Linked DNA regions of Homo sapiens. The protein of the gene in region 1 interacts with the protein of each later gene in a pairwise test. Each region holds a gene or a part of one and is shown on either strand. Other genes may lie near its edges. The genes, in order: CRLF3 and KCTD21.

What was found.
Region 2: the proteins of CRLF3 (region 1) and KCTD21 interact in binary tests that used the Homo sapiens proteins (3 or more experiments, as listed by UniProt).

What each region holds. Positions count from the first base shown.
Region 1 is NC_000017.11:30,788,355-30,804,232, reverse strand, and holds part of CRLF3 (cytokine receptor-like factor 3), read left to right. Parts: intron 1-124; coding exon 125-332; intron 333-6,834; coding exon 6,835-6,922; intron 6,923-7,895; coding exon 7,896-8,073; intron 8,074-10,560; coding exon 10,561-10,783; intron 10,784-11,402; exon of another isoform or gene 11,403-11,660; coding exon 11,661-11,793; exon of another isoform or gene 11,794-13,595; intron 13,596-15,878. UniProt on the Homo sapiens protein: May play a role in the negative regulation of cell cycle progression.
Region 2 is NC_000011.10:78,171,531-78,184,928, reverse strand, and holds part of KCTD21 (BTB/POZ domain-containing protein KCTD21), read left to right. Parts: intron 1-6,943; exon of another isoform or gene 6,944-7,798; coding exon of another isoform or gene 7,799-7,877; intron 7,878-10,345; coding exon of another isoform or gene 10,346-10,374; coding exon 10,375-11,157; 3' UTR 11,158-13,398. UniProt on the Homo sapiens protein: Probable substrate-specific adapter of a BCR (BTB-CUL3-RBX1) E3 ubiquitin-protein ligase complex mediating the ubiquitination and subsequent proteasomal degradation of target proteins. Promotes the ubiquitination of HDAC1.

The DNA.
Region 1 (15,878 bases):
TAATCTTTTTTTTACTAAATTGAAGAAGATGGTTATACAGTGCTTTTAGATTCATGTGAATTATACCTTTGGATTAGCCTTTTTTAAAGATTCTGATTTTGAGTATTTTGTTATTTCTTTTTAGATCAAAGAAAGTGCATCACAGACAAGGGATGTTCTCAAACAGCATTTTAATGATTTAAAGGGAACCCTTGGAAAGCTCCTGGATGAGCGATTGGTGACCCTTTTGCAAGAGGTGGACACCATTGAACAGGAGACCATTAAACCACTAGATGACTGCCAGAAGCTCATAGAACACGGAGTCAACACTGCAGAGGACTTAGTCCGAGAAGGTGGGGGACCAGGGAGCCTGTTGTATTAGTGCATTCGTCCATTTTCACACTGCTGATAAAGACATACCTGAAACTGGGCAATTTACAAAAGAAAGAGGTTTAATGAACTTACAGTTCCATGTGGCTGGGGAGGCCTCACAATCATGGCAGGTGAAAGGCACATCTCACATGGCGGCAGACAAGAGAAGAGAATGAGAGCCAAGCGAAAGGGGTTTCCCCTTAAAATACCATTAGATCTCATGAGAGTTATTCACTACCAAGAACAGTGTGGGAGAAACTGCCCCCATGATTCAATTATCTCCCACCGGGTCCCTCCTGCAACACATGGGAATTATGGGAGTACAATTCGAGATGAGATTTGGGTGGGGACACAGAGCCAAATTATATCACAGGTTAAATGTGGTTCGTTCAGATTGACATTTTGCTGATTTCTCAGGATAGCAGCAGGCTTCTTGCCAGCTGTGGGGTTCTTAGAATGTTCTTACCTAGAGACAGTTTGTAATATAGGATGACAGATATACCGTTAGGTATCGCATGGCAAGTGCAGTTGAAGTGTTAGTTATAATTAGTTATAAAACAAGAAAGAATAAATGATATGGGGCACATTGAGATGTTTTGATACAGGCATGCGGTGTGTAATAATCACATTGTGGAAAATGGGGTATCCATTCTCTCAAGCATTTATCTTCTGTGTTACAGTCAATCAAATTATATATATATATATATTTTTTTTTTGACACAGGGGTTTTGCTCTGTTGCCCAGGCTGGAGTGCAGTGGTGCTGTCAGAGCTCACTGCAGTCTTGACCTCCCTGGCTCAGGTGATCCTCCCACCTCAGCCTCCCAAATAGCTGGGATTACAGGCGCGTCCCACCATGCCTGTAATTTTTTAGTATTTTTAGTAGAGACAGGGTTTCACCATGTTGCCCAGGCTGGTCTCGAATTCCTGGTCTCAAGCAATCTTCTCATCTTGGCCTCCCAAAGTGCTGGGATTACAGGCAAAAGCCACCACAATTACAGTCTCCATTGTTTTATTTAGAAAGTTTAAAAAAATGTGATTGGTGTTTACTCCTATCTTTGCCAATTATTTCCATTGAGTCATGCCCTGCTGCCTTCCTTTCTTCATTATACCACCTTCCTTCAACAGAGATCTTTGTCAGGCACATAACATAAACAAGGGGGCCAGGTGTGGTGGCTCACGCCTGTAATCCCAGCACTTTGGGAGGCTGAAGCAAGTGGATCACTTGAGGTCAGGAGTTTAAGACCAGCCTGGGCAACAGCCTGTCGCTACAAAAAAAAAAAAACTTAGCTGGGCATGGTGGCATGCACCTGGAGTCCCAACTACTTAAGAGGCCGAGGCGGGAGGATCCCTTGAGGCCAGGAGATTGACACTGCAGTGAGCCGTGATTGCACCACTGCACTCCAGCCTGGGTGACAGAGTAAGACCCTGTCTCAAAAAATATAAAATAAGACTAAGAATAAAGGCCGGGCACGGTGGCTCACGCCTGTAATCCCAGCACTTTGGGAGGTGGAGGTGGGCGGATCATCAGGTCAGGAGATCAAGACCATCCTGGCCAACATGGTGAAACCCCGTCCCTACTAAAAATACAAAAATAGCCGGGCGTGGCAGCGCATGCCTGTAGTCCTAGCTACTCGGGAGGCTGAGGCAGGAGAATTGCTTGAACCCGGGAGGCGGAGGTTGCAGTTAGCCGAGATTGCACCACTGCACTCCAGCCTGGGTGACAGAGTGAGACTCCCTCTCAAAAAAAAGAAAAGAATAAAATAGGTGAGAGTTCTTTCCTTTGGGATTCAGAGCCCAGTGAGAGAGAGATACATGCTAAGAGATCAAGACCTTATTGGAGCATAGAGGAGGAAGTTCTTAACTTTGTCTGGAATAGTGTGGGATAGCTTTCTGTAGGAAGAGTTCCACAGAGGCTTGAAGCAATTCATCCAGCAGACATAGGAAAAAGAGGAGGTAACAGCATGATTCCAAGCAGAAGTAACATTATCATAAGTGGAGTGAATGGCATATTCAAGGATTAGTTGAAGCATTTTAAGCAGCAGAGTGACAGGATCAGATGTGCATTTAAAAAAAAAATGACCCTGCCTATTTGGAGACTATGTTAGAGATTGTAAGACTAGAGGGAAAAGAGACTGATTAAAAAGTTATTAGAGGCCGAGGCCAGGCTAACACCTATAACCCCAGCACTTTGGGATGTCAAGATGGGAGGATCACTTGAGGTCAGGAGTTTGAGACTAACCTGGCCAACATGGTAAAACCCCATCTCTACTAAAAATACAAAATTTAGCCAGACGTGGTGGTGGGCACCTGTAATTCCAGTTACTCGGGAGGCTGAGGCAGGAGAATCACTTGAACCTGGGAGACAAAGGTTGCAGTCAGCCAAGATCACAACACTACACTCCAGCCTGGGCAACAGAGTGAGACTCCGTCTCAAAATAAAAAAAAATTATTAGAAACTGGGCACGGTGGTTCATGCTTGTAATCCCAGCACTTTGGGAGGCTGAGGCGGGTGGATCACTTGAGCCCAGGAGTTCAAGACCAGCCTGGGCAAGATAATGAGACCCCATCTCAAAAAAAAAGTTATTAGAAAGTAATCCAGGTAGGAATGGTAAAGGCGGTGGCTGGTAAAGATGAGGCAGGGCTGATTTTAAGAGATTTTGAGCCAGGCACAATGGCTCACACCTGTAATCCCAGCACTTTGGGAGCCTAGACAGGAGAGGAGGATCATTTGAGGTAAGGAGTTCGAGACCAGTCTGGGCAATGTAGTGAGATTGTCTCTAATTTTTTTAAAAAAAAATAGCTAGGCGTGCTGAGCACAGTGGCTCACACCTGTAATCCCAGCACTTTGGGAGGCCGAGGCAGGCATATCACAAGGTCAAGAGATCAAGACCATCCTGGCTAACACAGTGAAACCCCATCTCTACTTAAAATACAAAAAGTTAGCCAGGCATGGTGGCAGGCGCCTGTAGTCCCAGCTACTCGGGAGGCTGAGGCACGATAATGGCGTGAACCCAGGAGGCGGAGCTTGCAGTGAGCCTAGATCGTGCTATGGCACTCCAGCCTGGGCGACAGAGCGAGACTCCGTCTCAAAAAAAAAAAAAAAAAAATTAGCCAGGCATGGTGGCACACACAAGTTGTCCCAACTACTCAGGAGGCTGAGGTGGGAGAGCTTGAGCTATGATTGCAGCACTGCACTCCAGCCTGGGCAACAGAGCAAGACCCTGTCTCTTAAAAATAAAAACAAAAAAACAAGACAGAGTTTTTTTTTTTTTTAAGAAGTAGAATTATTGATGATTTTACTGAGCAGTGACTGTTATCTGTAGATGATTACCTACATATGTGATGGAGGGGAAAGGAAAGGATTTGTGATAACAAAAATCAGCCTACTTTTGGATTCTGAATAAATAGTGGTGCTGTTTTTGACAAAGGAATTGAAGGAGAAGGCGGGTGCTTAGTACGTAGTTAGGCATTTGGCTTGGGCATGGTGAGTTTGAGGTGCTTAAGATGGAAATACGGGTATGATTCTTAGGAGAGAGATCATACCAGGAGATGTCAGTATGGCAGTTAATGGCATATATATCAAATCTGAATCTATTGGAATAAGTACAATCATCAAGGGACACCGTGTAATGTGAGAAGAGCAGATGAAAGAGATTAGAACGCTAAGGGTCACCAACATTTAAAAGTCATTTGAGGAAAAAGGAGCTAGGGAAGGAGACTGAATTCCATCTCTTCTGCAGAATGAGTGCTGGGAGTGGTGTGGGAAAAAGGCGTGGATGATTCACATGGCTGTCACTCCACCTGGAAGTTAATCTTCTTTTGGTCCCACTTAGAATATAGTATGGGTGTTATCTTGACATTGCTGGTTACATTTTTGTCTTGTCTTCAATGAGAAGTGTTTATTTGCCACTGACCATAACAGTACTTTTGAGAAAATTCTAGCAGTACCATGAAATGTCTTTCCTTGGTGGCTTTGCATTTGGAAACAAACCCAGAAGCAGTGCACCACGGGCCAGGAGTGTACACTCATCACCCTGAGGACTGATCATTTGTTTTTATTTTAGAAGATAAATCCTGGCCGGGCGCGGTGGCTCGTGCCTGTAATCACAACACTTTGGGAGGCCGAGGGGGGCGGATCATCTGAGGTCAGGAGTTCAAGACCAGCCTGGCCAACATGGTGAAACCCCGTCTCTACTAAAAATACAAAAATTAGCTGGGCATGGTGGTGGGCACCTGTAATCCTAGCTACTCGGGAGGCTGAGGCAAGAGGTTGCAGTGAGCTGAGATTGCACCATTGCACTCCAGTCTGGGCGACAAGAGCAAGACTCCATCTCAAAAAAAAAAAAAGATAAATCCTGGCTGGGCATAGTGGCACATTCCTGTAGTCCTAGCTACTTGGGAGGCTGAGGCGGGAGGATCCCCTGAGCCCCAGAGTTTGAGGTTGCAGTGAGCTGTGATTATACATCACACTCCAGCCTGGGTGACAGAGTGAGACTCTGTCTCAAAAAGAAAAAATCCCTTTGAGGCAGTGTGAGTGTTACAGCATTTGATACTTGAATATTTTTGTATGTCCAAAATTTAATTTAATTAATTAACTTATTTATTTTTGAGATGGCGTGTTGCACTGTTGCCTGGGCTGGAGTGCAGTGGCACGATCTCAGCTTGCTGCAGCCTACGCCTCGCAGGTTCAAGCGATTTTCCTGCCTCAGCCTCCCGAGTAGCTGGGATTATAGGCGCCCGCCACCACGCCCAGCAAATTTTTTGTATTTTTAATAGAGACAGAGTTTCACCATGTTGGCCAGGCTGGTCTAGCACTCCTGACCTCGTGATTTGCCCACCTCGGCCTCCCAAAGTGCTGGGATTACAGGCGTGAGCCACTGTGCCTGGCCTATGTTTTTTAATTAAAAAAAATTATTATACATCTCAGCAGCAGAAGGAAACTTTAGGAATATTTTTAATGTCAAACTCTTTCCTATTCTCCTGAGGGATAGAAACTTACTTATGGAATTTTGAGGATTTTATTTATTTATTTACTTATTTTTGAGACAGAGTCTCACACTGTTGCCCAGGCTGGAGTGCAGTGGCACGATCTTGGCTCACTGCAACCTCCACCTCTCGGGTTCAAGCGATTCTAGTGCCTCAGCCTCCCTAGTAGCTAGAACTACAGGAGCGTGCCACTATGCCCAGCTACTTTTTGTATTTTTAGTAGAGACGGGGTTTCATCATGTTGGCCAAGCTAGTCTTGAACTCCCAACCCCAGGTGACCCACCAGCCTCAGCCTGCCAAAGTGCTGAGATTATAGGCATGAGCCACAGTACCCGGCCATGTCTCTGTTTTTCTTTTGGTGAAGGAGAAGGTCATATGGTCTCAAAAAACTTGAGTAACTACAGGGCACATTTAGATGGAAAAGAGTTCTGGCAGTGTTCTTCAGGGCTGTGGAAGGACATAGAAGTTGGTCATTTTCATATCATATGCCTCTATGTAACTTTTTTTTTTGGCGGGGGGGACGGAGTCTCGCTCTTTTGCCCAGGCTGGAGTGCAGTGGCGTGATCTCGGCTCACTGCAACCTCCATGTCCCGGATTCAAGTGATTCTCCTGCCTCAGCCTCCCTAGTAGCTGGGAATACAGGCACCTGCCACCACACCCAACTAATTTTTGTATTTTTAGTAGAGACAGGGTTTCACCATGTTGGCCAGGATGGTCTTGATCTCCTGACCTCGTGATCCACCTGCCTCCGCCTCCCAAAGTGCTGGGATTACAGGCGTGAGCTACCGCACCCAGCCTGACATTTTCTTTTTATTGTTCTGTTGAATAATTTGTAATCTGATATATGATACTCTTTTAGGAAAACATAGATGCATCATTTGGCTTTTCAAGCCTTATGCCCAGCCTGGGCAACATAGTGAGACCTCATCTCTACCAAAAAAAAAAAAAAAAAAATAGCTGGGCATGGTGGCGTGCACGTGTGGTCACAGCTACTTGGGAGGCTGAGATGGGAGGATTGCTTGAACCTGGAAGTTCAAGGCTGCAGTGAGTTATGATCCTACCACTGTGCTCCAGCATGAGTGACAGAACAAGACCCAGTCTCAAAAAAAAAAAAAAAAACACCCTATCCCCTGTTGCACCTCTCAGGGCAATATTTTGTACTGGCTCCTATTGAAGTTCATAATGATTCTGTAGGAGAGATGGAAAGAAGTCCCTGGGCTTTCTGCTTTGCCTAAAATTGGTTGATTTCCTTGTATAGAGTAGATAGATTTTTCATCTCTGGCAAAATGTTGCCACTGTATATCCCTTTTCCTCTTGGATTTGATCTTAGAGTCACGTCTAAAATAGTTTCTACTTTAACTTTTTGGGAATTTGACTGTGGCATCACTTAAGAACTTATTTGCAAGAACGCTAGAGACCCACCCAGACATGAGTTGTGTTGATTACTTTATATGTGACCATTTTCATTGTTCTAGTTCTCTTATTCTTGATTGTAGGTGAAATCGCCATGCTTGGTGGTGTGGGAGAAGAGAATGAGAAACTGTGGAGCTTTACCAAAAAGGCCTCGCACATTCAGTTGGACAGGTAAAAGAGTTTGTGCCTTTTTGACTTACTTTTAAGCATTTAAACTATGTCTGCTTTTTTCCTCCCTCTGTTCAAGATTCTCATTAAGGGAGATAGAGAATATATATTTCAAGGTTTTCAGACCATGCGTGGTGGTTTACACCTGTAATCCCAGCACGTTGGGAGGCCAAGGCGGGTGGATTGCTTGAGGCCAGGAGTTTGAGACCAGCCTGGCCAACATGTTGAAACCCTGTCTCTACTAAAAATATAAAAATTAGACGGGCATGGACCTGTAATCCAGCTACTTGGGGAGGCTGAGACAGGAGAATTGCTTGAACCCAGGAGGCAGATGTTGCAGTGAGCCAAGTTTGTACCACTACACTCCAGCCTGGGCAACAGCAAGACTCCATCTCAAAATAAGTATAAAATAAAATAAAAAATTATCCGGGCATGGTGGCGTGCGCCTGTAAGTCCCAGCTACTCGAGAGGCTGAGGCAAGAGAGTCGCTTGAATCGGGGAGGTGGAGGTTGCAGTGAGCTGAGATCGCACCACAGCACTCCAGCCTAGGGGACAGAGTGAGACTCTGTCTGAAAAAAAAAAAAAAAAGCGTTTCACTGCCCATTACCACTGTTACTAATGAAATAGTTGTGATTATAATCCTTGGTATAGTATTACTACACATTTTTTCAATCCAATATATAAAAGAATTGTTAAATTTTAGAAATTATCAATGTATTGTTGAAATGGAGTCATATTCCAGTAAACCAGATCTTTTGGCTTAAACTGGACAGTTATGATCCTACCAATTTTCTGTCTTACTTATATTTATTTGAAAAGAGAATCTTTGTGTAACATCTTGCAAATCCCCTACTGCCATGAGAATTAATTACTGGGGGCTTCAGGATCTTTCAAGCATGTGACTGCTCTAAAATATTTCTTGTATTTTTTAACTCTCAGTTAGAGGTCTCATAACACATGAGCTTTGTTTCCTCAGCTTACCAGAAGTACCTTTACTGGTTGATGTGCCTTGTTTATCTGCTCAGTTGGATGACTCAATTCTTAACATAGTGAAAGACCACATTTTTAAGCATGGAACAGTAGCATCTCGCCCACCAGTACAGATAGAAGAACTAATAGAGAAACCTGGAGGCATCATTGTACGATGGTGTAAGGTATGTAATTCAGAATTCTAGAAATGACTTCCACATTATGGGTTTGCGATTTGGAGGCCTTTCAGATTTTTTCGTTGACTACTTTTAAATACATTCTTTTCTTCTCAAACAAAAATCTCTTTTACTTTACAGTTAAAATGAAGTCACATGGAACACTGAGGTAGCTCTTCCAGTTTTATTTTTATTTTATTTATTTATTTTTTGAGACAGAGTTTTGCTCTTTCACCGAGGCTGGAGTGAAGTGGCGTGATCTCGGCTTACTGCAACCTCCATGCCCTCCCCCGCCTGCCGCTTCCCCCGGGTTCAAGCCATTCTCCTGCTTCGGCCTCCTGAGTAGCTGGGATTATAGGCACCTGCCATCACACCTGCCTAATTTTTGTATTTTTTGTAGAGACGAGGTTTCACCATGTTGGCCAGGCTGTTCTTGAACTCCTGACCTCAGGTGACCCACTCGCCTCGGCCACCCAAAGTGCTGGGATTATAGGTGTGAGCCGCCGTGCCTGGCCTTTTTTTTTTAAATGAAGCCTTGCTGTGTCGCCCAGGCTGGAGTGCAGCGATGCAACCTCCGACCTCAGGTGATCTGCCCACCTTGGCCTCCCAAAGTGCTGGGATTACAGGTGTGAGCCACTCCGCCTGGCTGACATTTTCTTTTTTTTTTTTTTTGAGACAGAGTTTCGTTGTTGTTGTTCAGGCTGGAATACAATGGCACGATCTTGGCTCACCACAACCTCCGTCTCCCGGGTTCAAGCAATCCTCCTGCCTCAGCCTCCCAAGTAGCTGGGATTAAGGCATGCGCCACCACACCTGGCTAAGTTTGTATTTTTAGTATTTTTGTATTTTTAGTAGAGACAGAGTTTCTCCATGTTGGTCAGGTTGGTCTCAAACTCCCGACCTCAGGTGATCTGCCCACCTCGGCCTCCCAAAGTGCTGGGATTACAGGTGTGAGCCACTGTGCCCAGCTGAGATTTTATTAAAAGGAAATTTTTTTTTCTTTTTTTATAAACATGCTGTTGTTATTTTCTAACAGGACTGTCATTCCATTTTTATTATTTTTCCTATCAGTGGACCTAGTTATTTCCAGTTTTTTGCTATAAGTATTTTTACTTGTGTTTCTTTATGGACATATGTGAAGTTTGTAAAATATTAATATTTACCTAGGTGTAAAATTATGAGGTCTTCTTAGAGTATTGGATCCATACGCTGATAGGTAATAACAAACTTTCCACAAGATGATTCTATCAATTTAGCCTTCCAAGGAGTATATGAGTTTCTGTTATTCCATATCTTGACCAATAATTGGCATTGTGAGACTTTATATTTTTGCCTAAATGTACCTTGTTGTGGTTTTATTTATTTGTTTGTTTTTGAGACAGGGTCTCACTCTGTCACCCAGGCTGGAGTACAGTGGCACAATCATGTCTCCAGTCTCAATCTCCTGGGCTCAAGTGATCCTCCCGCCTCAGCCCCCAAGTAATTGGGACTTCAGGCATGTGCTTCCACAGCCAGCTAAGTTTTGTAATTTTTTGTAGAGATGGGGTTTTGCTGTGTTGCCTAGGCTGGCCTCAAATTCCTGGGCTCAAGTGCTCCACCCGCTTCGGCCTCTCAAAGTGTTAGGATTATAGGCATGAGCCATCATGTCTGGCCTTGTTGTGGTTTTAGATCGTATTTGCCATATTACAAATTAGGTACAAATTAGGTTGAATATTCATAATATACATTTTTGGCTATTTATGTTTCTTCTCCTGTAGAACGCTTATTTATGTCTTTTACCCATTTTTCTATTGGGTGGCTAATTAACATACAGAATATATGCAGGACCCCTAAAAATTAATGGGGGTTCTGTATACTGTATGTTAATTATCTCTTGGTTATTATGAATGATGTATGGTTGTGGGAGACTTACTGAATCTTGAATGTTTTATCTTTGGCATTGATTAAAAAACATGCCATTTCTTCAAAGGAGGCAGACTTTTTTATATCAGACTGGGAAATACAGAACACATGGTTCAATAAAGAAAAGAAGGGAGCCCAGGCGCAGTGTCTCACGCCTATAGTCCTAGCACTTTGAGAGGCTGAGACGAGAAGATTGCTTGAGCTCAGGAGTTAAAGATCTGAGATATGGTGAAGCCCAGTCTCTACAAAAAATACAAAAAATTAGCCGGACATGGTGGTGTGCACCTGAAATCCCAGCTACTTGTGGGGTGGAAGGAAGAGGATGGCTTGAACCCGGGGTGTGGAGGCTGCAATAAGCCGAGATCACGCCACTGCACTACAGCCTGGGTGACAAAGTGAGACCCTTTCTCAAAAAAAAAAGAAGGGAGATAATGATGTGATGGCATATTTTCTATGGCCTTCCCAAGAATACCCCATATTCAGCATGTGGGCCTGTCTGCTTGGTCCAAAATGGCTCCGTTCAAAATTTTTAAGCAGTGATGCTGAGAGAAGTCATTTTCTGTTTTTTACCTAACATAAAGCTTTTCTCCCTAGGTGGATGATGACTTTACAGCCCAAGATTACAGGCTCCAGTTTCGTAAATGTACTTCAAATCATTTTGAGGATGTATATGTAGGTTCTGAAACTGAATTCATAGTATTGCACATAGACCCCAACGTTGATTACCAGTTCAGAGTCTGCGCCCGAGGAGATGGCCGACAGGAGTGGAGTCCTTGGAGTGTCCCCCAGATAGGTCATTCCACATTGGTGCCTCATGGTATGCTGCTAACCTTTTCTCTCCTGAAGCCTAACTATATATTAGAATACCTGTATTCTGTGCTAAGGGCAGCACACTGACAACCAGCTATTCTAAGCATAGATCCTGAATTGATAAGAACAACATGCACCATGTCTTTTACTCAGATTACCTCATGTGATTTTTGTTTTCATCAGTTCTTCAGAGTCCAAAAAAAATGCTGGACAAGATTTTTAGCCTCATTGAAAACCAAAGATTGAAAATATTATGTAGGGCACTGATATTCCTTTTTATTCTTTTTTTTATATTTGAATGTTATTTAGTTAGTTTTTTTGAGACAAGGTCTCACTCTGTCGCCCAGGCTGGTGTGTGGTGGTGCAATCATGCAGCCTGACCTCTAGATCCTTCTGCCTCAGTCTCCCAAGTAGCTGGGACCACCTGCATGCACACCACACCTGGCTAATTTTTTATTTTTTTCTAGAGACTGGGTCTTGCTATGTTGCCCAGGCTGGTCTCAAATTCCTGGGCTCAAGCAATCCTCTTGCCTCGGCCTCCCAAAGTGCTGGGATTACAGGCGTGAGCCACCGCGCCTGGCCTATTAATTAGATTTTTATCAGGTTGGAATAAGTTCAAGCAATTATGCTTGTACAATGATTTTATTAGATAAGAGATAACACTTGTGTGATTTATTATGTCAAAATTATGCAGGAATATACTAAAATCTTTTGTAATTTGTGGGACTGATCATGATACCCTGTTAATGGAATCTTTTATTTTATTGAACTTGACCATGGCCCCTAAGAGTAGTCTCCCATTTCCATGTTTTATTTAACGTGTCTGTATTGAAGATATCCCTCAAGAGATTCTAACAGTTTTCAATATCTTTGCTTTGAAAAAGAGTGGACAGCTGGTTTTGAGGGGTACAGTCTGAGCAGTCGAAGAAATATAGCACTTCGGAACGATTCTGAATCATCGGGTGTTCTCTACTCCAGAGCTCCGACTTATTTCTGTGGGCAGACATTAACATTCAGGCAAGTAGATATTAAAACATCTCACCTGCCTCAGGAAGCAGAGTGAAGTGCATAGAGCATACATAAGCTTTGAATTCAAAACATCCTGAGTTTATTCCGTCATTTATAGGCAGTGTTACTGTGGGAAGGCTTCTTTATTTCCTGTAGCTGTAGTTTTCTCATCTGTATTCACAGGGTTATTACGTAGATTAACTGGGAAATGTATATAAAATGCTTGTTATTTAATATGTTTATATCTCTTTTCCTCTTGGTAAGTAGAGGTAAGTAGAGTATCTCTCAAAAGTCAATCTTAGGCTGGGCATAGTGGTTCACACCTGTAACCCCAGCACTTTGGTAGGCCGAGGCAGGTGGATCACCTGAGGTCGGGAGTTCGAGACCAACCTGAGCAACATGGAGAAACCCCATCTCTACTAAAAATACAAAATCAGCCGGGCATGGTGGCACATATGCCTGCAATCCCAGCTACTTGGGAGGCTGAGGCAGGAGAATTGCTTGAACCCAAGAGGCAGAGGTTGCAGTGAGCTGAGATCATGCCATTGCACTCCAGCCTGGGCAACAAGAGCGAAACTGTGTCTCAAACACACACACAAAATTAAAAAGTAAATCTTAAAAATTTAGAGGCCTGGCCAGGCACGGTGGCTCACACTTGTAATCCCAGCACTTTGGGAGGCTGAGGCGGGCGGATCACGAGGTCAGGAGATTGAGAACATCCTGGCTAACATGGTGAAACCCCATCTCTACTATAAATAAAAAAATTAGCCGGACATGGTGGTGGGTGTCTGTGGTCCCAGCTACTCGGGAGGCTGAGGCAGGAGAATGGCGTGAACCCGGGAGGCGGAGCTTGCAGTGAGCCGAGATCACGCCACTGCACTCCAGCCTGGGCGACACAGCAAGACTCCGTTTCAAAAAAAAAAAAAATTTTAGAGGCCAAGAGACTGGACGCAGTGGCTCACACTTGTAATCCCAGCACTTTGGGAGGCCGAGGCGGTTGGATCACTTGTGGTCAGGAGTTCGAGACCAGCCTGGTCAACCTGGTAAAACCCCATCTTTACTAAAAATACAAATATTAGGACAGGCGCAATGGCTCCCGCCTGTAATCCCAGCACTTCGGGAGGCTGAGGTGGGTGGATCACAAGGTTAGGAGATCAAGACACCACCCTGGCCAACATGGTGAAACCCCATCTTTACTAAAAATACAAAAATTAGCTGGATGTGGTAGTGCACACCTGTAATCCCAGCAACTAGGGAGAGTGAGGCAGGAGAATCACTTGAACCCGGGAGGCAAATGTTGCAGTGAGCCATTGCACTTCAGCCTGGCAACAGGGCAAGACCCGTCTCAAAAAGAAAAAAAAAATTAGCAGGGTGTGGTGGCACACACCTATAATCCCAGCCACTCAGGAGGCTGAGGCATGAGAATTGCTTGAGCCTGGGAGGCAGAGGTTACAGTGAGCTGAGATCGCGCCACTGTACTCCAGCCTGGGTGACTGAGCGAGACTCCGTCTCAAAAAAAAGAAAAAAAGCATAGGCCGGGCACTGTGGCTCATGCATATTATCCCAGCACTTTGGGAGGCCGAGGTGGGCAGATCACGAGGTCAGGAGATCGAGACCATCCTGGCCAACATAGTGAAACCTCGTCTCTACTAAAAATACTAAAAATTAGCTGGGTGTGGTGAGGTGCGCCTGTAGTCCCAGCTACTCGGGAGGCTGAAGCAGGAGAATCACTGGAAGCCTGGAGGCGGAGGTTGCAGTGAGCAGAGATCGTGCCACTGCACTCCAGCCTGGGAGACAGTGCAAGATTCCGTCTGGAAAAAAAAAAAAAAAAAAAAAAAAAAAGCAAAAAAATTTACTGGCCAAGAATTTGTTTTGTCCTTTGTGAATCATTAACAGCAAGTCTTTGTAAGAGACAACACTGTAAACATATTATGTATATGCTACTCTCTAAAGTAAAACTGAAAGCAAGCCTCCCCTACCACTAATTAATGTTGTTTCTCTACCCATTTCTTTCTGTAATGGAAAAGTTTCTTTTTTCTTGTTTTCATGTTATCTGAGATGTATTCTTTATAGTCATGTTTCTGAATAGCTCTTCGTAGAAACTAAAGACCAGTTTTGACTTAGAGAAGTAAAGTTTGCCTGATTTTCACCATACTCACCTTAGTGTAACAAGCTCTCCTCTAAGTTTTAAGTCTTGAGATGGGATTTTATTGTGAATGCTTGACCCAAGTTCCTTTTGTTCTCAGGCCCTTATTATTTAAGGCATGGAGAATATCTGAATATTTTATCTAAGCCAGTGTTGCTGTATTCCTCTCCAGCTAAGTAATTTGAATTGTCAGCGGTTGTCAGATTATACTAGTTTGTTTTGTCTAATTTTTGACACCTCACCCCTTAATGAAGAATGACTCAGTAAACAGAAAAATACCAACAAAGAGAGAGAGAGGAAAAAAAAAAACAACTAATACCTAAAATCTATTTAACTATTCCCCAGGTAATCATGAGTTTTCTGTACTTACATACCCCTTCTCTGCTTATGTCCCTTGTTTACAGAAGCACTTCGGTTAGTGACTCTCCTGAGAACAAGGTATTTCTGTGCAATGACAGAGCTTCCTAACTTGATAAATTCAGGCCAGATATCTCAGACTGCAATAATGATGATAATAATAATAATTGCAGTTAATATTTAAACAGTATTTACTATGTGCCATGTACTGTCTTAAGTATTTTACTTGTATTAACTCATTTGATTTTCATGGTAACCCAGTGAGATAGATGGGTTATTTATTTTAGGGATGAGGAAACTGAGGCATAGAGAAGTTATTTACCCAGTGTCACACAGCTAGTAAATGCCAAAACTAGGGTTTAAATCCAGGCAGTTCGACTCCAGACTGGTCTGTATTGCTTCTTTTTCATGGGAGAGTTAACATGATTCTAGTTAGTGTTGAAGTCTACAGTTTCTCTATTACTGTGTCCTTAGCTCTTTAACTTTTACCTCTTATGACCTTTCACCACTTGATCTGATGCTCTCCTGCTTTTTAAATTCTTCCTCCTTGGACACATGGTAATGTCTGATAGATTGCATAGTTAGGTTTATTTCTTAGACCATTCAGTAAATATTTATTAAGACATTGGAAATTATACAAATTGATTTAAATTCACCTCTGCTGACCGTGATGTGAAAGACACATTAGGTCTCAATAAACTGTTGAGTCTCTCTTGCATCTCCTAAAGATGCATCACCAGGCCCCACTTGGCAGGGTGATTAACTGAAATTCAGTTAAACTCAATATAATGGTAGCCAGCCTTTTGCATTTTTGTCATTTTTTTCTTTGTGGAATGAAATGTTTTCTCCCCTTGTTTAAAGGAATTTCAGGCATCAGCAGTGAAGCCAGAGATGTGAATGCAAGGGGGACTCCATGCATAAGGGCATAAGGGAGGAGCAAGTGCGCCTACTTGAATCAAGAGAAACAATATTTAGTTTTTTGAGGGTACTTAAGGGCCTAGTAGTTAGAAGGGAGACTATACTCTTGAAGGCACTACGTTAGCCGGGCACGGTGGCTCACGCCTGTAATCCCAGCACTTTGGGAGGCTGAGGTGGGCAGATCACGAGGTCAGGAGTTCGAGACCAGCCTGGCCAATATGGTGAAACCCCATCTCTACTATAAATACAAAAATTAGCCGGGCGTGGTGGTGTGTGCCTGTAATCCCAGCTACTCAGGAGGCTGAGGCAGGAGAATCGCTTGAACCCAGGAGGCGGAGGTTGCAGTGAGCCGAGATCACGCCACTGTACTCTAGCCGGGGCAACAGAGTGAGATGCTGTCTCAAAAAAAAAAAAAAAAAAAAAAAAAAGAAGGCACTACTTTGTTATTTATCCCAGTCAGTCCCTGCTGAAGCTTCTGGAAGGCTTGGAGCTGCTGAAGCCAGAGAAACCTGTGATACTGGCTGGATTTTAACAGTCTCTAGACCCACTCTCATTAGATGCCCAGGTCTGCTAGCAACCCCCTCCTTCCAGGTCTCCCTCACTTCCTATGTGAACATTCCTGCTCTTTCCTTGCTTCTAAGATTTTCTGATTTTTTTTAAGGTTTCCTTCTTT
Region 2 (13,398 bases), on another chromosome or scaffold:
CCATCTCTACAAAAACTACAAAATTTAGCATGGTGTGGTAGCGTGCACCTGTAGTCCCAGCTACTTGGGAAAATCACCTGAGCCTGGGGATGTCAAGGCTGCAGTGAACCATGATCGCGCCACTGCACTCCAGCCTGGGCGACAGAGTGAGACCCTGTCTCAAGAAAAAAAAAATTCTAATTGCCCAAAAATACCTTATATAGTTTCTGGTTTTTAAAATCAGATCCAGTCAAGATGTACATATTGCATCCTATTATATCTCTTTTATCAACTCATTTAATCTAAATAGAGCCCCTTGGCATGGTAGCTCATGTCTGTAATCCCAACATTTTGGGAGGCTGAGGTGGGCAGATCACTTGAGGTCAGGAGTTCGAGACCAGCCTGGCCAACATGGTGATACCCCATCTCAAGTAAAAATACAAAAATTAGCCGGACATGGTGGTGTGTGCCTATACTCCCAGCTACTCAGGAGGCTGAGGCAAGAGAATTGCTTGAACTCAGGAGGTGGAGGTTGCAGTGAGCCGAGATTGTGCCACTGCACTCCAGCCTGGGCAACAGAGTGTGACTCTATCTCAAATAAATAAATAAATAAATAAATAGAGCTTCTCCACCTATTTAAATATGTTTGATTGGTTTATCAATGATTAGATTGGGGTTAGATTTAAGTTTTTGGCAATGTGTGTACTTACTGCATGTCAGGAGGATATGATGTCAGGGTCTTACTATCCATGAATGCTAAATTTGATTATTAAGGTCATGGCAACCTGATCTCTCTATCGTAAAGGTAAATTTTTCTCTCTTACAATTAATAAGTAATCTGTGAAGTGATTCTCTGAGTCTGTTATAATTATGTGTTCCTGATAACCTTTCACACCACATCCTTGGATGATCCTTGCTTGAATTACAACACTGAGGGTTGCAAATTGGTAATTTTCTAATTCTGCCATTCCTTCTGTGTTTATTAGTGTTCTTTTTTATAGAATTAATTTTTCCTGGCCGGGTGCGGTGGCTCACGCCTGTAATCCCAGCACTTTGGGAGGCCGAGGCGGGCGGATCACGAGGTCAGGAGATCGAGACCATCCTGGCTAACAAGGTGAAACCCTGTCTCCACTAAAAATACAAAAAATTAGCCGAGCGAGGTGGCGGGCGCCTGTAGTCTCAGCTACTCGGGAGGCTGAGGCAGGAGAATGGCGTGAACCCTGGGAGGCGGAGGTTGCAGTGAGCCGAAATCACACCACTGCACTCCAGCCTGGGCGACAGTGAGACTCCGTCTCAAAAAAAAAAAAAAAGAATTAATTTTTCCTGTCTCTATCTTTCTCACTCCCTTCTTCTCACCCTCTTTTTTCTTTTGGGAATAACATTATGGACTCTTGTTTTTTGTTTGTTTGTTTTTGAGATGGAGTCTCACTCTGTTGCCCTGGCTGGTGTGCAGTGGCACGATCTTGGCTCACTGCAACCTCCACTTCCCAGATTCAAGCGATTCTCCTGCCTCAGCCTCCCAAGTAGCTGGAATAACAGGCGCACGCCACCCCGCCCAGCTATTTTTTGTATTTTTAGTAGAGATGGGGTTTTGCCATGTTAGCCAGGCTGGTCTTGAACTCCAGACCTCAGGTGATCCGCCCGCCTCGGCCTCCCAAAGTGCTGAGATTACAGGCATGAACTACCGCACCCAGCCTGGACTCTTGTTTTGTTGTTGTTGTTTTTTAATTCACTGGGCTATATGAACTCACCTTGAACTTTTCCTGTGAAAGTCCAGGAATCATCAGTTTCTCCAGGAAGCCCTGGTTTCTTTTAGAAGAGATGATGACATTCAGAAACAAAGATCCAGGGCTAGGTGTGTTTATTGCTACTGGGTGTCATTTCTAGGCTCTGTGAGTGAGCAGAGCTAGGAAATGATGGATAGGTGATTGATAGATAGATGATAGATGGACAATTTTCATTACTCAGTACATTTATTGTTACAACAGCTAGTCCCCACTGACAGGATTGCATGGTAAGTCATTTCATTATGGAAGTAATGCTCATTATGGAAGTGGACAGTAATGTAGGAAAAAAGGAAATTGCACAGAAAAGAGCTCTTGCCTACTCCAGGTCGCCATGAGTATACAGACTGTTGGCTAGGACCTCTGTGGCTGGGTTCAGCTTCCTGCCGAAGACGTCTAAAGGACTGGTTCTCTGAAGGGTGTCCAAACCAGAACTTCCCAGAGGCCATGACTCTGAGGTCAAGAATCCACATGAAGCCCTGGGCAAGGGATTCACGCTCTTTGGGTCTGCTTTAGGTTGTCTTTGAAACAAAGACAATGTAATCGGTCCTGCCTGGGTCCCAGAGTTGTAAGGATCAATATATTTATCAATATGTTTATTTTTAAACATTGCTAGTTGTGTCTCTTCACATTTATTACCAAATTCCTTCTCTTCTCATTGTTTTAAAACCACAGAGGGAAATGTCATTGCTTTATAATCTAGTTTAATACATTGCGCTAAGATGTCTTATTCAAATACTCTTTCAGGTTATCAGTCATCAGTGCTTCCAGATTAAAATTTTAATTATTTAAATCTTTTTTGAAAAATACTATTGGGATTTGGATTAGGATAGCATAACAACTATAATTAATTTTGAGGGGGGGGGGGTGCTTTGGGATAAGGCCTGGCTCTGTCACCCAAACCAGAGTGCAGTGGCACAGTCTTGGCTCACTGCAACCTCCACCTACTGGGACAAAACCAATTATTAAAATAGAAGAAGTTCCTATAGCTATTATCACTTGGGAAATTACACAGTTTTTAGCCCTGGCCAACAGCTGGGGACAAATCTAAAATGTATATTGCTTATTATATCACAGTATCACACAACCCCTCCCCTGAGTGCAAGGCGGTGACTATGCAGACGTGAGACATGCAGTTGCTCTCAGCTCACAAACTAGGCAGTGGTTTCCAAAAAAAATTGTTTTGTCAGCCACAGTATGAAGATACCATGATCCAGTTCATAGACACACAACTGAAACAAAAGTTTCACAACAATATATAATTGGTTACAACCCACTTAACTGTATTGATGTCATGACTTGCCAATAGGTCACAACCTTCATTTTTTTTCCTGTTTATGGAGGTAAAACTTAAGTATGGTAAAATTTACACTTTTTTTTTAATTGAGACAGGGGTCTTACTATGTTTTCCAGGCTGGTCTTGAACTCCTGGGCTCAAGTGACCCTCCTGCCTCGGCCTCTCAAAGTACTGGGATTATAGGCATGAACCACCACAGCTGGCCACAATTCACCCTTTTAGATGTGTATGGTTACATGAATTTTGACAGTCTTTATAAACACATTTGACCACCACCACATCATATTACTTTTGTGCCAACCTAATAGAATATTCCCATCACTCCAAAATATGCCTTGTGTTTCTTTGTAACCAGTCTTTTCCCTCCAACCCAGCCCCAAGAATTCACTTAATCTGATTTCTGTCTTTATAGTTTTGCCTTTGCCAGAACGTTATACAGATAGAGTCATGTACCATGTAACCTTCTGAGGCTGGCTTCTTTCACTTGACGTAATGCTTTTGAAATTCATGTATGTGGTAATGTCTTTTAGTAGTTCCTATATATTGCTGAGTCATATTCTATTGTATGGATGTACTGCAATTTATCTGTTTACAATTAGTTGTTTCTGAGTTTGGGCAATTATGAATAAGCTGCCATAAACATTCACATATGAGTCTTTGCATGGACATATGTCTCCATTTCTCCGGCATAAATACCTAGGAGTAGGGTCATTGGGTCACGTGATAATTGTATGCTGTATTAGTCCATTCTCACACTGCTAATAACAACATACCCCAGACTGGCTAATTTACAAAGGAAAGAGGTTTAATTGACTCACGGTTCCACAGGACTAGGGAGGCCTCAGGAAACTTAAAATAATGGTGGAAGGGGAAGCAAACATGTCTTTCTTCACATGGCAGCAGCAAGGAGAAGTGCCAAGCGAAGGGGGAAACCCCTTATAAAACCATCAGATCTCTTAAGAACTCACTATCACAAGAACAGCATGAGGAAAACCGCCCCAATGATTCAATCATCTCCACCTAGTCCTGCCCTTGACACATGGGGATTATTACAATTCAAGGTGAGATTTGGGTGGGGACACAGAGCCAAACCATACCATATGTCAAACTATTTTCAACAGCGGTTACCATTTGTCAGCAGTGTATGAGGTTTCCATTGTTCTATGTACTCACCTTCAATTGGCATTGTCAGTTTTTATATGAGCCACTAATAGGTATATAGTAGCATATAATTGTGGTTTCAATTTTCATACTCTCATGACTGATGATATTGACCATCTTTTCATGTGATTGTCAGTCATCTGCATATCTTCTTTGCTGGAGTATTTGTTAGATCTTTTGTCTAGTTGTTTTGTTTTTGTTTTTGTTTAAGTAGAGATAGGGTTTCACCATGTCGGCCAGGCTGTTCTTGAACTCCTGGCCTCAAGTGATCTGCCCGCCTCAGCCTCCCAAAGTGCTGGGATTACAGGCATGTGCCACTGCACCCAGCTTTATGTGTTTTTTAATTGGGTTATTTTCTTACTGAGTTTTGAGAGTTCTTTATATATTCTGGTTAACAATCCTTTATCAGATAGGTGTTTTGCAAATATTTTCTCCATCTGTGTCTTATTCTTTCATTTTCTTAACAGTGTCTTTTGAAGAGCAGAAGTTTTTTACGTGGATGAAGTCTAGTTTATTGATGTTTTTAATGGTTTGTCCCTTTTAGGTCCTATCCAAGAAATCTTTGCCTAATCCACAGTTGCAAAGATTTTCTCCTAGAAGTTGTGTAGTTTTAGATTTTATATTTAGGTCTATGATATGTTCTGAGTTTATTTTTCATAAACAGCATAAGAGATGGACCAAGGTTCTTTTTTTCCCCATATGGATGTCCACTGATCTGCATTTTGAGATAGCCAGGGAAGAGGGCCATGTGCAAAGGAGATCGCTGCAGGTGGAATGCTGGGTGCTGCCAGAGGGGGTTGTGCAAGGCACCAGGAAGCCCTGAGAGGAGAGCTGTTAACCTAGTGGAGATCTGGGGACAGTAGTACAGAGGTGATGACTCATAGGCTGGGCCTGAAAGGTAGACAGCAGAGAGGGTAGAGAAGGTAGACAGGGGTGGTCTAGGGACAGCAAAGGCAGGGCAGGTGTCAGCATGAAGGAGACTGACTCAGTGGCGTCTGGCGTGCGTGGAGGGCAGGGTTAGACATGAGAGGGAAAGAGGAAGGTGGTTGGGCAGGGACGGTACTTCAGGAAGGTCAGTCTGCAGACCAGAAAGGAAGGTGGACAGAAGGCAGGGAGCCGAGTGAGGATGTAGGGGTGCAGGGGGCAGGGATGAGGCCTGAGCTCTGGGAGTAGCTATAGGGATGGGTTCAAGGAGATAGTCAAGACAAACTGTAGGGCTGAAGAGTCGGGGCTGCTTCCCTCAGGCAGTTGGGTGGCTCAGAAGAGTTCACAGCAGAGTTAGGGGCAGAGGAAGGCACAGGTGAGGCTTCTGGTACCTGTGTTACTGGTGGAGGGTCTTGACTAGGAATTTTCCAGGTCCTTGGCGTTTTGAACAAAGTAGCAGAGGGGCAGACGTGGTAATCCCCACACTTTGGGAGGCCTGGATGGGCAGATCACTTGAGGTCAGTCCAAGACCGGCCTGGCCAACGTGGTGAAACCCGTCTCTACTAAAAAAAAAAAAAGTAAAAATAAAAAGAGTAGCAGGGGAATGAAATGCAGGAATGAAGCAGTGAAAGCAGGAATTAAAGTGAGAAAGCACTCCTCAGGGTGGGAGTGGGCCGGAGCAAGGAACTCAAAGGCCCAGTTACAAAGTTCTCTGGGCTTTAGGTACCCCATTTGAGGTTCTTATCAGCTACTCCTTATCTGGACGAAGGATTTAGTCTGTGGCTAATTAAAGGCTGAGGTGAATGGGCACCCTATGCAGATAAAGGGATGGTCCCAATCCAAGGCCCCCCTCCCTTTCCACCTGAGACATGGTGGAGTGGGAGGGTTGCAAAGAGGAGCGTTTGATCCTTTGTCACCCAGCTGGGGCGATGGCGTTTTTCCTCTTGGTTCAGCTTTAGGAATTTGGTGTTAATTGGTCTTAGGGTCCCTGCCCCCAGACCCAGGATTTTCCTTCTGATCCAGCTTTGGGAAGTCAACAGAATTGGCCTCAGATTTTTTGCCCCAGACCTTGGTGTTTTCTCTTTTATGAAGTTAGCACAAATTGGCCTTAAGTTCCTTGTCTCCAAACCTTGTTCTCCTGCCTCACTTGCAGAATATCCAAGTGGAGGTGGCCAGGAGGCATCTGGGAACACATAGGGGACTGAGGCTCAGTGGTGTTAGTTCATTACTACCTGACTGCAAACCTCCGCCGACTCATGAAACTCCCCTCGTGTCATGTCATTTTGCCTTTTGTAGCAGGGCCGTGGATTTGTGATGATGGACACTGTGGCCCTGTGGCTAGAAAATAGGGGCTTAGACCAGGCACGGTGGCTCACGCCTGTAATCCCAGCACTTTGGGAGGCCGAGGCGGGCAGATCACAAAGTCAAGAGATCGAGACCATCCTGGCCAACATGGTGAAATCCCATCTCTACTAAAAATACAAAAATAAATTAGCCGGGCCTGGTGGCGTGCACCTGTAATTGCAGCTACCCGGGAGGCTGAGGCAGGAGTGTCGCTTGAATCTGGGAGGCAGAGGTTGCAGTGAGCTGAGATTGCGTCACTGCACTCTAGCCTGGCGACAGAGCGAGACTCCATCTCAAAAAAAAAAAAAGAAAAGAAGGGCTTAGAGGACTGAGCTCTGTGACTGGATAGGTAAGGGGAGATCACCACAGAGAGCACCCTAGACTCGGAGCAGGAGACCTGCCTGCTAGCCAGCCTCTGCCCTGACTGCCTGTGCAACTGTGCTGCTCTCCCCAGACAAATGACCGGGAGCCATGACGTCATCGGGGGCGCAGGAAAGCAGGTGCTCTGCTGCTTTTGCAAGCAGAGAAATAAGAGTTTGGGCACCTACCCAGGGGTCCCAGGGAATGCCCTGTGGCTCCTGACCTCCCCCGCCTGTAATGCTCTGAGCACTTCAGCAGTAATGCATGGAAGAGATAAGGGTCTGTGACCCATGGAACTGTCCAAGTCCTCTCTGACACCCGCTTCTTTTCCTGCCGTGAAGGTAAGCCACTTTATAGATCCTAGGCCTGAAACCCAATGTTGGGAGGGAGTGTTTGTTTTCAAGAAGAAAGAGAGACTGAAACTAGAACATGCACATTTCTATCCAGAAGAAAACAGTTGGAGTAGACTAGAGTCCTACAAAGAGGGCAACAGGGAAGAAGATTCTGGACTGAGTAAAGGGGACCCACTCCTGGGTCCACCTCCTGCCTGGGCCCTCTGGAGAGAGAATTGGCCAGATTCAGCCCTGAGTCACAGCACCCTCCCCAGTTGCTGCCTCACAGCCATCTCCACACCAGCAGCCATGCCCCCAGCGGCAGCTCGCCCACACCTCTGTGGGACCTCCCCACCGTCTCGCAGCCCATCTGCTCCAGGCTTCTACTGACGATTTCGTATTTCACATGGACTCATTTCTCCTCAGACACTCCAGATGGGGAATGCCTTTCTGCAATATCAAAGTGCCCCATTAGACTGGGGAGGAATCATGAGGGGACATACCCCTGCCCCTGCCACAGAGTCGAGCATGGCAGCTGAATATCTCTCACACTGGCATGGCCCCCATCCTCTGGAGAAAGGAGGCCTCAGTGCAGTCAGCCTCTTCAGGAGGCAGAAATGTTGAGAAGTTCTCGCCACCCCTGCTGGGTGACTTTGGGGAGGTGTCTCCTCAGACCTCTGTTTCTCCATCTGGACGGTAAGCATGCTTGAAAGGTTGGGTTTTTGTTTGTTTTTTGAGACCGGATCTCCCTCTGTCTGCCAGGCTGGAGTTCTGTGGCGTAATCACGGCTCACTGCAGCCTCAACCTCCCAGACTCAAGCGATCCTCCCACCTCAGCCTCCCAAGTAGTTGGGACTACAGGTGCTCGCCACCACACCCTGCTTTGTTGTTGTTGTTGTTGTTGTTGTTGTTGTTGTTGTAGAGACAGGATTTCGTCATGTTGGCCAGGCTGGCCTTGAACTCCTGAGCTCAAACGATCTGCCCACCTCGGCCTCCCAAAGTGCTGGAATTACAGGCATGAGCCACTGTGTCTGCCAGCCAGATAGTTTTTGATGTGCCAAGGTTCATTCCAGACCATCTCCCACATCTTCTACCTGTCTTGTCACTGTGCCTTTACTCTCTCATCTCCTCTACCAGCACAGGCTCTTCTGGGGGTAATACTGGGGCCAGTTCCTCTTGGCATCCCTACCTGCCATGTCAGGGAAGGATTGCTGAATCTGGTCCACAGGTTGGCTCTGGGGAAAGTATAGTGTTGGAAGCTGGAGCTGAGATCTCCTGTTTTCTAGAACATGTGGTGAAGGAGACTTGCCAGCCATAGATGCTGACAGCTGAGAGATTAGGGGGGCTTTGTTAAGGAGTGGATAGGGTGCCTTCAGGAGAGTGCTCTGACAGAGTCCTGCATTTGCACTGACCTTGCAGCCAGTTTCAGAGAAGCTTGGGGTGTTATGACAGCAAAGGACAGGCCACCAGGAGCCAAGAGCATCTTCATGGCAAGGCAAGTCAGCATGGGAGCAGTGAAAGTCTAGAAAGGATTGTCATTCACATGCACACGTATGTTTATTGCGGCACTATTCACAGTAGCAAAGACTTGGAACCAACCCAAATGTCCAACAATGATAGACTGGATTAAGAAAATGTGGCACATATACACCATGGAATACTATGCAGCCATAAAAAATGATGAGTTCATGTCCTTTGTAGGGACATGGATGAAATTGGAAATAATCATTCTCAGTAAAGACTACTGCAAGGACAAAAAACCAAACACCGCATGTTCTCACTCATAGGTGGGAATTGAACAATGAGAACACATGGACACAGGAAGGGGAACATCACACTCTGGGGACTGTTGTGGGGTAGGGGGAGGGGAGAGGGATAGCATTAGGAGATATACCTAATGCTAAATGACGAGTTAATGGGTGCAGCACACCAGCATGGCGCATGTATACATATGTAACTAACCTGCACATTGTGCACATGTACCCTAAAACTTTAATAATAATAAAATTTAAAAAAATTTAAAAAAAACAGGATTGTCATTTGCAGTCCGGACAGCTGAGTGACCCACTGTGGGCCTTGAAGATAGATGGAAATGACACTAATCATGGCCATTCATTGTCAAATCTTTGAGAGAGAATAATAATTAAATTCAGCAGTGTCACTGGTACAGAAGGAGGAGCACTGAGCCTGGAGTCATAAATCTCAAACCATTTGTTGAGTACTTAGAACCGATCTTTGGCTAGTAAGCATTTACACATTTTTCTTTCATATAAAAGGACCTGAGTTTGAATCCTGGCAAGGCACTTCACCTTTCTGAGCTTGAGGAATGAATCCTGGCACAGTTTTCCTCATCTGCACAACAGGAATGGATGATTATATTGTCTGTGTCAAAAGATGATACAACCTTTTTTTTTTTTTTTTTTTTGAGACAGAGTTTCACTCTTGTTGTCCAGGCTGGAGTGCAGTTGTTCAGTCCCGGCTCACTGCAACCTCCACCTCCTGAGTTCAAATGATTCTCCTGCCCCAGCCTCCTGAACAGCTGGGATTACAGGCACCCACCACCATGCCCAGCTAATTTTTGTATTTTTAGTAGAGATGGGGTTTCACCATGTTGGCCAGTCTGATCTTGAACTCCTGATCTCAGGTGATCTGCCCGCCTCGGCCTCCCTAAGTGCTGGGATTACAGGTGTGAGCCACCGCACCTGGCTGATACAACTATTATGTAAGCAAATATATGTATAAACACGTAGCATAGCTTTCAGTCCAGGCACGTTTTCCTTTCTTTCTTTAGACCAGTGGTTCTCTATTCTAACTGAACATTTAGAATCACTAAGGGAACTCTTTCAAAATACCAGGGCTGGGGCAGTATTCCAGACCAATTAAAATAGAATGTCGGCAGCAGAGGGGGGCGCGGGGGACCCAGGCTTTAGGGGTCCTTCCCTTTCTTTCCCTGTTTCCTTTTTCCTTTCCTTTTCCCTTTCTCCTTTCCCTCTCCCTAGTGAAGCTAATGTACTTTGCACAGTGTTAGCAATTATCACCCATTCATCAGGTATTAATTCATTTCGATCCCAAGGGCATAGGCTTGATGTACAATAAGGAGTTAAGGACTGTGAGTTCTCTGATAAGGTTTGGTTATAGTCATTTCTCACTTCTCACCCTCTCCAGGACTACTTCCAGCAACCCAGTCTCCTGCCATGTCCGACCCCATCACGCTGAACGTCGGGGGGAAGCTCTATACAACCTCACTGGCGACCCTGACCAGCTTCCCTGACTCCATGCTAGGCGCCATGTTCAGCGGGAAGATGCCCACCAAGAGGGACAGCCAGGGCAACTGCTTCATTGACCGTGACGGCAAAGTGTTCCGCTATATCCTCAACTTCCTGCGGACCTCCCACCTTGACCTGCCTGAGGACTTCCAGGAGATGGGGCTGCTCCGCAGGGAGGCCGACTTCTACCAGGTGCAGCCCCTGATTGAGGCCCTGCAGGAGAAGGAAGTGGAGCTCTCCAAGGCCGAGAAGAATGCCATGCTCAACATCACACTGAACCAGCGTGTGCAGACGGTCCACTTCACTGTGCGCGAGGCACCCCAGATCTACAGCCTCTCCTCTTCCAGCATGGAGGTCTTCAACGCCAACATCTTCAGCACCTCCTGCCTCTTCCTCAAGCTCCTTGGCTCTAAGCTCTTCTACTGCTCCAATGGCAATCTCTCCTCCATCACCAGCCACTTGCAGGACCCCAACCACCTGACTCTGGACTGGGTGGCCAATGTGGAGGGCCTGCCAGAGGAGGAGTACACCAAGCAGAACCTCAAGAGGCTCTGGGTGGTGCCCGCCAACAAGCAGATCAACAGCTTCCAGGTCTTCGTGGAAGAGGTACTGAAAATCGCTCTGAGCGATGGCTTCTGCATCGATTCTTCTCACCCACATGCTCTGGATTTTATGAACAATAAGATTATTCGATTAATACGGTACAGGTAAAAGGACCCCAACAACACTGGAGATGGGGAGTCCCAGGAAGCTCATGTCAGCCAGGTCTTGGAGGGCATCTCGCCAGTGGTGCGAGGCAGGGGACTATACTAATCTGTATTAATTGTGTAGCAGGACTTGATTCCCCCCATGATGAAGTCCACCTTTTGGAATCCAGTGTCCTCTGAACAGAACCACCTTTTTTCTTGCCATTTTGAGCTGCAGACAGGCGGTTTATTATGACAAGTGAAGAGTCAGCTGATGTGTACTAAAGGAGGCCATAGGAGGATTTTCCAGCCAGGACAAAAGAGCAGCAGTTTTCTCCTGGGCTCCATCTCTCTGTACCGCTAGCCAGTGCCGCATTTATCCATCTGTAAGAAGGCCCTGGTGGAGAGGATGGGATGAGAACAAGAGGCTACCTCCAGTTAACCAGGACATAAAGTCCCCAGCGGTTCCTGTCACACCTGCTCCTCCCTCCCCAGGGTGCATCCATGATCGTGGATGTTTGCCCAGGGGTGACCATGTTTGGCTGGCTTGGAATGCTGTGCATTCTCAGAGCTCTGTTAGTGTCCCCTCTTGGGGGTCAGAGATGAGGTGTGGCAGGGTCTAGAGGAATGAGTGTCCAGGCAGAGTTCAGAAGGTAGGAATGTCCCTCTTGATAGGGCTGAATCAAGGGATTCCTGGCTTTAGAAAGGGTCTGCTATCTTTGCAAAAATGTGCAAGTATCTGTAGCCAGTGTAATGAAATCACTTCCAAATCCAGCCTGTTACCTGACTTTTGTCATTGTTTTCCCAAAAATTTGAGGTATCATTGAAACAGGTCATTTTAAACAAATCTATTACGGATTCTCAGGGTTGGAAATAATTCGATGATTGCTTAGTCCTCCCCCACCCCTAGAACACCCCAGCACATCTGAAGATGAGCGCCTCTCCCTGGGTACCTGCAAGTGATCACCTTGGCCTGCTTGCATACCTTGGCTGATAGGAAGCGCGCCATCCCCAAGGCAGCTCCTGCTGTGGTTGGACAGTGCTGACTGTTAGACAGTTCTTCCCTATATTGAGCCAAAATCTGTCCTGCCACTTGCTGGATCTTGGTTGCAGACCTTCCCATTCACCCAGTTATATATCTTTGCTTTCAAAATAGTCACCTTGAGAGACCAGACATTTTTCTGAAAACATCATTACTCAGAATTCAGATTCCCCTCTGGGATCTGTCTTCAGAATCAAAGTTAGCTCTTTTCTATCCCCTGTAAGTCAGTCCCCTTTTGTTGTAGCTTCACCTCGTTTGTGACCCCCACTTCACCCACCTTCCCCACCATCTGTGGCTCCATATACCTTTCGACCATTTTCTGCTGGAAGAGGAAGATTCACGGCCCCTGAGGAGATCCAGAGGAAAGAGACGGTCTCCAAGGGTGCTGTGCAGCAAGGAGCCCAGGAGTGGTATGAACCGTAACAGTGCCCTTAGAGTAAATGTGCGGCCCCTAAGACCCTGCCCTCAGGAAGGCGGCCTTCCCCTGCAGTCCTGTGTCCCACCCCTGGGTCTCTGTAGGGTGCCATCCAGGGCAAGCAACCCAAGCACTGCTTCCCACCGGGTGATGAGCCATGCAGGCCTCCAAACTGCACGTCATGATTCATCCCTAAAGTGAGTTTGGCCTTGAGAGTCCCCAGGGTCCTCCCCCACTGGGCAGGGGTCCTCAAAGCCAAGGAAGCCTGGTGACACAGGCACCCATGGGAGGTGGGCCCAGAAAGGGGCTTCCCATAGATAGGCCCTGTGAGTAGGGAGCTTGTACACTGGGCCATGGGCAGCGCCAGTTCCCTTGAGCAGTAAAGGCCCTTTTCCCCCTACGGTGGGACCCAGGAGTCTCTCTGACAGCTTTTCTGCCAGGCACAGTGGCTCATGCCTGTAATCCCAACACTCTGGGAGGCCGAGGCGGGAAGATCACTTGAGGTCAGGAGTTCAAGACCAGCCTGGCCAACATGGTGAAACGTCGTCTCTGCTAAAAATACAAAAATTAGCTGGGTGTGGTGACAGGCGCCTATAACCCCAGCTATTTGGGAGGCTGAGGCAGTAGAATCGCTTGAACCCAGATAGCAGAGGTTGCAGTGAGCTGAGAGTGTGCCATTGCAGAGAGACTCCATCCCAAAAAAAGACAGCTGTCCCAGGCCAAGGGTACTTGGGAGAGCCCCTCATGGAGAACCTAGTTTAGACCAAGTAGCAGAAGCTGTGGTCATAACAAAACAATTTGAGGAAGAA